3 linked regions of the Homo sapiens genome follow. The protein of the gene in region 2 interacts with the protein of the main gene of each other region in a pairwise test. Each region holds a gene or a part of one and is shown on either strand. Other genes may lie near its edges.

Evidence for each region.
Region 1: the proteins of PSMB1 (region 2) and RPRD1B interact in binary tests that used the Homo sapiens proteins (3 or more experiments, as listed by UniProt).
Region 3: the proteins of PSMB1 (region 2) and POMP interact in binary tests that used the Homo sapiens proteins (3 or more experiments, as listed by UniProt).

Annotation. Positions count from the first base shown.
Region 1 is NC_000020.11:38,043,744-38,047,495, forward strand, and holds part of RPRD1B (regulation of nuclear pre-mRNA domain-containing protein 1B), read left to right. Parts: intron 1-3,752. UniProt on the Homo sapiens protein: Interacts with phosphorylated C-terminal heptapeptide repeat domain (CTD) of the largest RNA polymerase II subunit POLR2A, and participates in dephosphorylation of the CTD by RPAP2. Transcriptional regulator which enhances expression of CCND1.
Region 2 is NC_000006.12:170,539,646-170,543,397, forward strand, and holds part of PSMB1 (proteasome subunit beta type-1), read right to left. Parts: intron 1-3,752. UniProt on the Homo sapiens protein: Non-catalytic component of the 20S core proteasome complex involved in the proteolytic degradation of most intracellular proteins. This complex plays numerous essential roles within the cell by associating with different regulatory particles.
Region 3 is NC_000013.11:28,662,062-28,665,813, reverse strand, and holds part of POMP (proteasome maturation protein), read right to left. Parts: intron 3,405-3,752; coding exon 3,307-3,404; intron 1,306-3,306; coding exon 1,245-1,305; intron 1-1,244. UniProt on the Homo sapiens protein: Molecular chaperone essential for the assembly of standard proteasomes and immunoproteasomes. Degraded after completion of proteasome maturation. Mediates the association of 20S preproteasome with the endoplasmic reticulum.

The sequences.
Region 1 (3,752 bases), on a different chromosome or scaffold from region 2:
GAAAAGAGAAATCAAAGACGATTTCTAGGTTTTTGATGTAAGGAATGACTGATGGTGCCCTTTACTGAAGTGAAGATTGGGGAAAAGATTTGGTGGAGGAAATCACGAGTTTTGTTTTGGCCAGGCCGAGTGTGAGGTGGCTAGTGAATATTCCAAGGAGTGATGCCAAATAGGCAGGTGGATAAAATAGTCTGAAGCTCAGTAGAGACTTGATTTCTGGAGACATAAATTTGAGAGTTACCCACATGATATTTACTTATTGTTGTGGGCCCCAAGACCACTCCCAGGTTTGGTGATTCCCTAGAATGACTCACAGGGCTCATCATGTAGTCATAGTCATGGCAGTGATTCATTACAGCTAAAGGATCCAAAGCAGCAGCAGCAGCAGAGGGTGATGTGCATGCAGTACCCGCAGCAGACTGGAGCGCTCTGGGTATAAGCTTCCGAGTCCTCTCTCAGTGTTATTCCACAAACACGCTTAATTCCTCTAGCACTGAGTTGTGATGTGTATGATGTGTAACCTACCAGGAAAGCTCATTAAAGACTCTGTGCCCAGAGTTTTTATTGGATTGGTCATGTAGACACCCTCTGCCAAAATTCTAAGCTCCCAGAAATAAATCAGGTGTTCATTTTTTTTTTTTTTTTTTTGAGACGGAGTCTCACTCTGTCGCCCAGGCTGGAGTGCAGTGGCTTGGTCTTGGCTCACTGCAAGCTCCGCCTCTCGGGTTCATGCCATTCTCCTGCCTCAGCCTCCCAAGTAGCTGGGACTACAGGCGCCCGCCATGATGCCCGGCTAATTTTTTGTATTTTTTAGTAGAGACGGAGTTTCACCATGTTAGCCAGGATGGTCTTGATCTCCTGACCTTGTGATCTGCCCGCCTTGGCCTCTCAAAGTGCTGGGATTACAGGCGTCAGCCACCGCGCCAGGCTCAGGTGTTCATTAAGAACCGTATTGCTTGCACAAACAATTTAGGCCCAGTAAACCACCCTTACCAGTTAGGAAATGGTAGGGACACTCGGAAATCCCAAGTTCCCAGACCACTTCCCTAAGGGTAGCAGTCTGGCCTTCTGTGTTAACTCCTTTCTGAACCAGCTTTACATGAGGTACTGTTGGAAGTGTAGGGAATACTTAGAATTCCTGCCCTTAGTAGGCCTACCATAGGCCTGCTGTGCATGAGATAAGACAGAGTTGTACAAATTACTGTGGTTGTACTGAAAAAGTGCCATAGAACTGTAGAGGAAGAAAAGGCCCCCAAGGCTGGCTTTGCAGGGACTCAGGTGTCCAGCTGACACGTCAAGCAGCCAATTCTGTTTGTGTGTATCATATACATTTTTCACTCTTAAAGGTCAGTTTTGCTATCTGTATTGAAAAATAAAGTGATTGAATTTGTTATTAATCAGAATTAAAATATGAAGTGTTCAACGTAATATTAAGTTGTGTATGTAATTATTTGCCATCTTCCACTTTATTCATAGATTGTTGGCAAAGATTGTTCAGTCTTTTTTTCCACTTAAAGATTTCTCAGTTTAGATTGGAGTTAGTACAACCTGAAAATATTTCTCTTTCTGTTATAAAACGGCTTTATTACTTTGGTTGTATCTAATTCCAGATGCCAAAGTGACTTCCATTTCGCTGGAGCTACTTCCTTCAAAACCTAATCAGTAGAAAGATTTCTTGAATATTTTATGTATAACTTTGAAACTTATCTAGCAAAACTTTGATTTACCACAATGTTCAAGGAAATATCTGTCCTGGTTAGTTATATTCACTAATTAAACTAGAACCCCCCTTTTGGCCTTTAGTAGTAAAAGCCTTTTGAAAATGTTTTGTGGTTATAACAGGTTTGAGCATCATTTTCCACTGTGCCTGAAACTGTACACAAAACCAGTCTTAGCCTGAATGGAGTCCCAAGTATCTCCAGGAATGGTGGGTGGTGGGTGTGTGTTGTGATACCCACCTACTTTTAAACTAAGTCCTTGATAAGAATTTATTCTCGAGACTGGTTTCTCTTTCTTTTAAGCGAACAGAGAATCTGCAGCAAACAGATTTTATGCTAAAAGTACCAGCTAGTTCATTAACTAAGTTCTGATTAGTTGCAATTTGGTTTTACTAATTATAATGACTTTATTTTTCTAAGCTATACATTTGCTCACATTAGGGACCTCCCATTGCCTGCAGGCCACGTGCTTTAATATGGCATTCAGGGCTCGCTGTAATTGAATTCCACCCTCCTTCCAGATTCTTCTGCAGTTTCCGCACATTCCCCCATATACTTCAGCTACTTGAATTACTCCTTTCCCTTTGCCTTGTTCAATTTTGGCTATTCCATTTGAAGGAGAAGAGATAGCATGAACAAAGGCACATGCACATGAGAGAACAAATTCTGAGTAGCAAATACATACGGGTGGGTGTTGCTGGAATGCAAAGTTCCAGGTAGGGTAGGGAAAGGAGACTAAAAACAGGTCTGAGGGATTGCTGAGTCGAGCCCTAGAGGTCAGGACCCAGGCCTTCTTATTCTTTGTAAACCTTCATTGGTCGAGCTGAGGAGTGCTTAGTTGATTTCTGCCATGACCTTGATACAGTAAGATGATTGTTGAAAGTTAAGTAACTGTATTACTTACCGAAACCCATATACATTTTTCTGGAAAAGATTACAATTTGACAGATATTCATTGTGCTTGTTCAAGGGCATATAGCAATGGGAGAAAATGACAAATCTGCACCCCTGTGGAAATTACATTCAAATGGAAAGCGTGTAAACAAAAAGTAAACTATTGAATATACAGCATACCAGAAAAGTTGTATGGAGAAAAATTGAGTAGGGGCAGGGAGTGTTATTTTCAACGTGGAGATTAGGGAATGACACACTGAAGGTGGTGTAACTAAACATACCCCTGAAGGAGGAGAGGAATTGAGCTGTGTGGCCACATGGGGAATGTGGTTCCAGGCAAAGCAAACTTTTGAAGTGCTAAGGCTCTGAGGCAGTGCTAGGGTAGCTGTTGTTGAGGCAGGAGGTTGGAGGACGGGGGTGGGGAAGAGTGGGTAGGAGATGAGGCCAGGGAAATAACAGCTGGGTTGGGAAAGGCCTTGGAGTCTTTATAAGGACTTTTATTCTGAGGGATACTGGGAAGAAATGTTGGCAATTTTGAACAAAGGAGTGACGTGGTCTGCCTTAGTACAGCAGCTAAAATTGTATTTTGAAAACTCGAGAACAGGTTGTAGGAGGACAAGGGTGGAAGCGAGGAGACCAGTAATGAGGCTACTGTAGTAATGCAGGCGAGAGATGATAGTGCCTTGGGCCAGATTGATAGCAGAGGAAAAGATGAGAAATAACTCATTTCCGGATATATTTTGAAGGTGGAGTAAAAGTGTTTTATCACAAATACCAAGTAATTGGGTCATATTTTTAAGCTTTATAAAATTAGCAGTAGAAATGTTTTTCCTTTTTTTTCCCGAACCCTCACTTCTGACTTTAAAAAGTTTAACAAAAAAAGAATTAATTTTTATGTACTCTGATTGAGTCCTTTAGTCAGTGAAATTTACCACTAATAATTCATAAGTGAGACATTCTGACTGGGCTAGGCTGAAACCTAAGTTCTCCTTGAGTTTATGAAAGCGTTGTCATGGTCGGGTGTGAATAGAGTTCCCATCTCAGTTGAATTGGCATGGTTTCTCCTTGAAGTTCCTATTAAAAGCCATTTAACTTAGATACTAAGATGTCGAGGTATCCCTTCTTGTTTAAAGTCATTCA
Region 2 (3,752 bases):
AGGGTACTGGCGTATCCTTCAGAAAGAGTATACTCAACAAAATACAAAAAAAAATTTATCTGACCCAATACTTCAACTACTCGAAGTTTATTCTAGCAAGACAAGCATAATTGGGGAAGTACACAAAAATGTATGTACAAGGATGTTCATCATAGTGTTTATATTAAGAAAACAGGAAGCCAAAATGCCCTTTAGAGGACTGGTTAGGTAAATGATGCTATGTATTACAGCAGCAAAAACAGAAGACAAAAAAATTTTTTGTTAATTAAATACAAAAATCATTATGCATATAGCTTAGATCTCCTTGATAATACATAATGTATAGTTACAGAAAAACAGATACCAAAGTCCTACTTACATAAAACTGCATGAGTGTATGTATAAACATGTACTGATTGTTTTCACTACAGAAAAACTAAAGCCACTTTTAATTTGGGAGAAAAATTTTTAAAAGGCATGAGAGCAGCTAAGAGATTAAAGACAGAGAGGTTAGTGCAGACAGCGGTTGACACCAAGGGAAAGAGCTGTGGACCTTGCTGTCCTGAAGGTTTCAATATGGAGCACTGCTCTCCAGGTCCCTGCATCCACCAACACAGAAGACAGTAAAGGAAGTCTCCTGAGACATTAGCAGAGGCTCTGGACTTAGGGGACCAGGCTCTAGAGTGGCAAAGGGTAGGAGCAAAACACATGAAATGGAAAGTTGATGTAAACAAAACACAGACCTTCAGCCCCCTTCCTCCTCTGAGGCCTAAAAAGCTGCCAACCGGGCTTCTCTTCCTGTAGTCCCACCTCACCTCAGGAAAAAAGATTAAAGAAATTCTTCATCTGAAGAAAATGCTGCTTACTTAAGCACCCAGTTAACGGCTGTCAGTTGACAAGCCATGTCAACAAGGACTTTCATAATCAAATTTTGGTACAAGACTCTTCAATGTGAATGGACAGCAAAAAAAAAAAAAAAAAAAAAAAAATCAGAGATTTGAAGGAAGCCTCTAACATAGAAGACAGAGGCCAAAAATGAACACATAACATGAAAAAAAAAACATTCTGATGAAATACAGAAAACTGCAAAGAAAGTAAACAGGATTTTTTTTAAAAAGACAAAAAATAAGTACAAGCTCTTGGAAATTAATGACACCAGAAATAAAAGCAATCAGTAAAGGATGAAAAGCTAAAATTAAGGAAATCTTCATAAAGTAGAACAAAAAAGACAGACATGGATAACATGGGGAGTCAAAAATAAAGTACCGGGTCATAATCCAGGTGGTTGTGGAGAAGGTGCAGAGGGGTAGGGGAGGAGGAGAGGAAAGAAGGTGGAGAAAGAGGATAAAACAAATAAGAAACTCTAGGCAAGGAACATCACTATACAATTTCAGAACACCAGGGTAAAGAAAAGATCCTAAAAGCAAAGTCTCAAAAAGGTCCCGTTTTGTTTTTTTCAGAAATCTTTTAGGAGGTAAGCCTCTAAAATAAGGAAATAAATCAAGAAAGAGGAGAACACAGGATGTGGGGGAATCTCAGGATGGCAGTGGTCCATCCTGGAGCAAGGGGAAAAGGGATCCACCTAGTATGTGAGGTCTGACAACCAGATGAATTGTACTCAGAGAATGTACAAGGAACTGACAAAAAGTTTAAAGAAATCTGAGCCAATTAGAGATAGTTAACTTAAGAAAAAAATAAAAACGAGTTACACAAGAAAGAAAATATTAATGCATGCTACTTGGCGCAACAAAGATCAATATCTATCTGGTCATAATAAAAACATTAAAGGTCTATGTTACCAAAAGTGTAATGTGTTAAAGGAGGATGCTAATGAGGAAGAGGACACAAAAGAGCTAAGAACCATCATCTACCAGAACAAAACACCAAAAGATATCTCAAAAGAGTGCAGTACAAATACAGAGTTTTGGAAAATGGAGGTAAGTACCAGGAAATACAGGTAAAAGAGCTGAAAACTGTCTTAGGGCAATGGAAAAAAAAGATAGAGGACTGCTTTATTATTCACACAAATTCCTCTATAAAATAAAAATTAGTTTAAAGAACACTTAAAAGCCAACCAGACAGACAAGCTTAGAAAGACAGTTCTAGAGACACCTGAGGTTGTCACCAAAACTAGCAACACTGTTACATGGAAATCAAAGAACAGGGCTCTGAAGTGAAACAAAAGCCAAACCTGAATCTTAGGTCTGCTGCTTAGTAGGTATCAGCTTTCCCAGATTAGACTCTCTAACTCTCGGAAAAACTCAAAGGATGCTGTCTGGCCTGCTGAAATTCAATGGCAGCTCAGCTATTTTTAATGTTGCTAAAATCTGAATCTATTAATCTGACATTAAAGCCAGGCATAATGTAAGTCAAAAAAGACACCAGAAGCATCCAGCTTGCTAAGTTAGGCAAATTAATTTGTAGCTAGACTCTAATTACCCATGTTAAAGGTAATTCATTTCTATTTTTACTATTTCTACACTTTACTTTTTCTCTTGGTTTTCAAGTAAGGTTGAAAGCCTTAAAAAGAAATTGTGTCAACCTAATTTGTCTACGCCTAAACCATGGCAGGTAAAATGATCAGAATGTTCCCCAAGGCTGTGTATGGGGGCGGATGTTAAGAGTCAGAGATAGCGCACGCAAAGAAAACGCTCATGGAACAGAAAGCGATAGGAGTCAACAACCGAGAGGCAGGGCGCTGAAATGAAGCTTGACCCTTTCCTCTTAGAATTTTCCCTCACAGGATTTAGGGTCCCCAGTCCCCTTGCTTTCTTTCTGTGTCCAACTGAGATGTTCTGTGATGTGGCCAGCCGCATGTATTCCCCTGGAGGCTCTGACCCAAGCCAAGGCCTGCCTTGAACATTCCCAGGCGCTGACAATGTTGTTTAGGCTATTGCTTGAAACACTGAGAAATTACCCCTGTTGCTAAACACACAGAAACTATCCCTGGCCCTGAACCAAATTCCTTCAACACTCAAATCAACTCCCTCACCTTGGACACATCTTTTCCTGCTGTCTGCTGAGAGGACTGCTGCAGCACTAAATGCTTTTGACTGATTACCCTGAGATTTAGTGTTCTGGAACCCCAACTAGGTTCGGGGCAGTCCCTTACAGGAATTCCTCTGCCCCTACTTTTAGGGCAACTTCAGCCACAGGTTCAGCCAGAAGGAACACAGAAGATGGGCTTACTCCAATGATATCCTCATCTAGACACTTCTGTAACTTCTTATCTCAATGGACTACTCTAAATGACACAGATGGACTACTTATCCATCTGTGTCAATGGACTACTCTAAGTGACAAAGATCTGTCCTGGGACACTGTACTTGTATTTGATTTTTAGATGCAACCAAAAGCCAATCCAAATGAGAACATTTGGATTGCAAATGAGAACAAATGGATTGGAACATTTGGATGGAAAACATTGGTGCCCATGTGGCGTAATGCAGCTCTGGAACAAAAATGGGATGGAATATTAAGTAACAAGACTTAATATTCTCAGGGAATCCTGGTCTGACTCTGACAAAATCAGAGAGGTGTTTCAAAAAGTTCTGAAAACACTGGAGTAGATGCTTATTATTAATTACCCCAAATGACTTCTAGAACCGTTAAAGAACTTTTTTGAAGTGTATTTGTTAATAAAAAAATTTTCAATACTCAGAATCACATTTAGGTCAAGCTTTCTAGGTCCGATTTCTTTCTATAAGATAAAAATGCCTAATTATTTACTACTAACTCATGCAAGTTCCTGAGAAAATAGCAAAATAACTGGC
Region 3 (3,752 bases), on a different chromosome or scaffold from region 2:
TCAATCTTATCCCTTGTCAGATAATTTGATCCCTTGACTGACCCATTTGGCAACTGAGTAAAAGAGTGAACTAAAATTAATTTGCTGAGTTCATTCAGATGCTGATGATCACTGCTTACCCTATTAAATGCTCACAGCTCACTCAATAGTCCACTTAAGAAACAGTTTCAGGGATCAATGTTACCACAGACAATCTTATTTTTTAGTTAGATCCTTTATACAAAAGTGGAATATGTATCCATCTATAACCAATTTTCATTTCTCCCATTAGTTCTCAAAGATGATCAACTGTGCTTTTATAATCATACTCACATACTTATAAGTGTACTCTGGGCTGTCAACTTCTGCACCTGAAACCTGAATTCACTTAAATCGATGAGGAATTTTTTTATTTTTCTCATCTAATTTGAACTTCAATTTCATAATTACATTATTTGTTCTACTCTTTCTTATAGGCAGACCTATCCTCTTATTAGAAAGCGAAACAAACAAACAACAAAAACAAAATACAGATCAGTTTTCTGTTACCTAACAACTGCATCATCTTCCCCAAGTAGTCAGAAACCTTTTTCTTCTTCCTCTAAATGTTTATTTAAGAATCCTTTAAATTGTGTTTTGGACATGTATACATGCTATCCTCTCTTTAGGAGTAAACTTTCTGGTCTAAAACTGTTCAAAGGTCCCTCCTCTTCTATAAAGCCTTCCAAAAAAGCCCTAAGCACAGGTGGCTGTCACATCCTTGGTCTTCTCTAGCATTTTACGAAGCCTTCTCCTACCCACTGCTTGTCTTCCTCATTAAATTTTAAGTTATTTAAGGATGGGGATGATGTCATATTCATCGAAGTACCTACTGTGCCTAGTGGCTGTGTCCTACAGTAACTCGGAGATGCAGGACTTAAAGAGGTCAAAACTAGAGATATGAACTTGGAAGTCAACAGCAAAAATGGCAGGAAAAATATAAAAGAAACAGCATTATTGAAAGAGAAAATTCCTGTGAGAGGAATGGAGAAGTGGATCACCCTTTGGAGACGTACATTAAAAAGGCAGGTAAGAACGCATAGAAAGGGAGCTTTAGAGGAGCAGTGTAATTTTTAAGTCTATCCTACAAGGGGTTTGAAAATAACGCCTCATATTCTTCATGGGCAAATCCTCAGTACCAAAATTGTTTTAATAAAATGAAACCAATATTAGTAAAAGTATTTATCTATTAGAAGATAAAAATAAGGACATAATAATATACTTACATTTTTTTCTGATAATTCAAGGGGATGACTAGGCAAAAGTTCATTTTTCACACAAGAAAAACTGAAAGGACATTAAAAAAAAAACATTTAGAGGAGATTAAATATCACTCAATACCCAGAGCTCAAAATCATATCTATAAAGGGATGGCATGAGAGAGTTTTTTGGGGTGACAAAACTGTTCTGTATCTTGACTGTGGTGACAGTCATAGGAATTGATACATGTGCTAAAAATTCATAGACCTACACACCAAAAGGAAAAAAAAAGGTATATATAATAATGTAAGAATGTATCCATTATAGACATTGGTGGTCAAGACTTCAATCACTAGGGAAAACTTGCCAAAATCTGGTGCCACATCTAGAAGAAATTTAATGAATGTATGTTTATTGCTATTACTCTGATGAGGTACTTCTTGCACTATATAAACTAAGCCTATTCCCTTCAGGTCTAACACTTTCAATATTTAATATATCTTTAATAAACATGTTGAACAATAGGTTTAACATTTACTGAACACCTACTATGTATAAAGTATGTTAGGTAAGGCACAACTAGAACCAGGCCACTGGTCTTTATCACTCTAGCTATATAAAGATGACTACCTTATTATCCAAACTAGGATTTTAAAGCTAATAAAAACCTTAGAAACCCTGCAACAATTGTTTATTGAATATTGTCTTTTTACAAAACATTATCCAGGAAGTGGGTTTTGAAAATGGTCCTGCCCCAGTCCAATCAGGAAGAAGAAGGAACATTTCATGTGGGGGGAAAAAAATCTTCAGACCTTAGTTACTGCCTAGCCAATCAACTTGATTATAAATATCAAATTATATCTCCAATTTCACAGGCTATATGCTGCATTTTTTTACTACAAAACTGAAAGTCTGTAATGAGGGATTATATTTGTACTCAGACACCAGCATTAGAATGCCATTCTATTATAGTAAGAGTAAATTACGGCCAGACGCAGTGGCTCACACCTGTAATCCCAGCACTCTGGGAGGCCAAGGTGTACGGATCACTGGAGGTCAGGAGTTCAAGGCCAGCCTGACCAACACAGAGAAACCCCGTCTCTACTAAAAATACAAAATTAGCCGGGCATGGTGGCACATGCCTGTAATCCCAGCTACTCAAGAGGCTGAGGCAGGAGAATCACTTGAACCCGGGAGGCGGAGGCTGCGATGAGGGGAGATCGCGCCATTGCACTCCAGCCTGGGCAACAAGAGGAAAATGCCATCTCAAAAAATAAATAAATAAACAAAAAATAAGAGTAAATACTTTAAAATTAGATGTAAAATTCAAAAATTCAAAACACAAAATGTTTATGGGGGAAAGGTCGTTATCCTTATTTTATTAAGCAGAAAAGTGACCTGCAAAGAGTATGGTCTAGTACCAGAAACTGAGACCTAAACATACAGAAACAAAAAGGAAATCAAAAACATGGCGTAACTGCATGCTAAAGCTAGAAAAGAAAAAAAATGGTAGCCAATACATACTGAGTGCTTCTAATGTCAGGTACCATTTAAAATATTTTTCAGGTATTAACTCATTTATTCCTCAAAAGAAGATACAGACTATTATTAGGCCTATTCTATCCATAAGGACACTGAGACATTAATTATGTGATTTGTCCAAAGGCACACATCTAGTAAAGAGCAGAGCCACGATCCAAACCCAGGCCGACTGAATCCAGAGTTTAATCTCTCAACTGCTATGTTCTAGTGCCTCCCAAAGAAAAGTGAATTACCCTAATAGTTAAGACAAGAAGGCAAATGGCTAAGTTATCAGTAGCAAAAAAATAAATAAAAAGAATCCTACCAAATCATGCTAATGGGCACCACTGCCTAGGAGGATGCTCTAATTGGGAACCTACTACTTTGATGAGACACCTCTTCCACTACAGAAAATATCTAAGCCTCTTCCCCTCTGCACCCCATGTAAGGTATATTACTTGCCATCTGCCAACTAAATACACATGTATAGCCTATCAAAATACTTAAAGAATATTGTGAAAATTCACAGAAACATAACAAAATCAAAGTCATAACTCCCCCATATACCCTTTCCGAAGAAGATCATGACTTTCAAAAGGTCCACTTGCTGAAAGTTCAGTAACTGGAATACTGTCCTTTAGCTCAGATCCAAGTCCTCTGGCATTCTACAACACAAATAAAAAACATTATTAAATAGAAAAAAAATTTAAACACACACCCAGGCAGCTGTGTCAAAAATATTGTTTAAGTAGGAGACAGAAAAATAAGAGGCCCTCAAAAAGTCCAGACTAGACAATTACAGCAAGCCTTAAACATTATGATATGATAGAGACACACATGGTACAATGAAAATACCAAATTTAGATGTGGGAAGGATTCCTGAGGTGATCTCTGAATGCTGTCAGTTTGAAAGGCATTCCAGGAAAAAATAACATGAATAAAGGCAAGAAAATATAAATGAACAAGCTTCAGGTAGTTTGAGATAACTGGCTAAATATGTTTCCAGTGAGGCA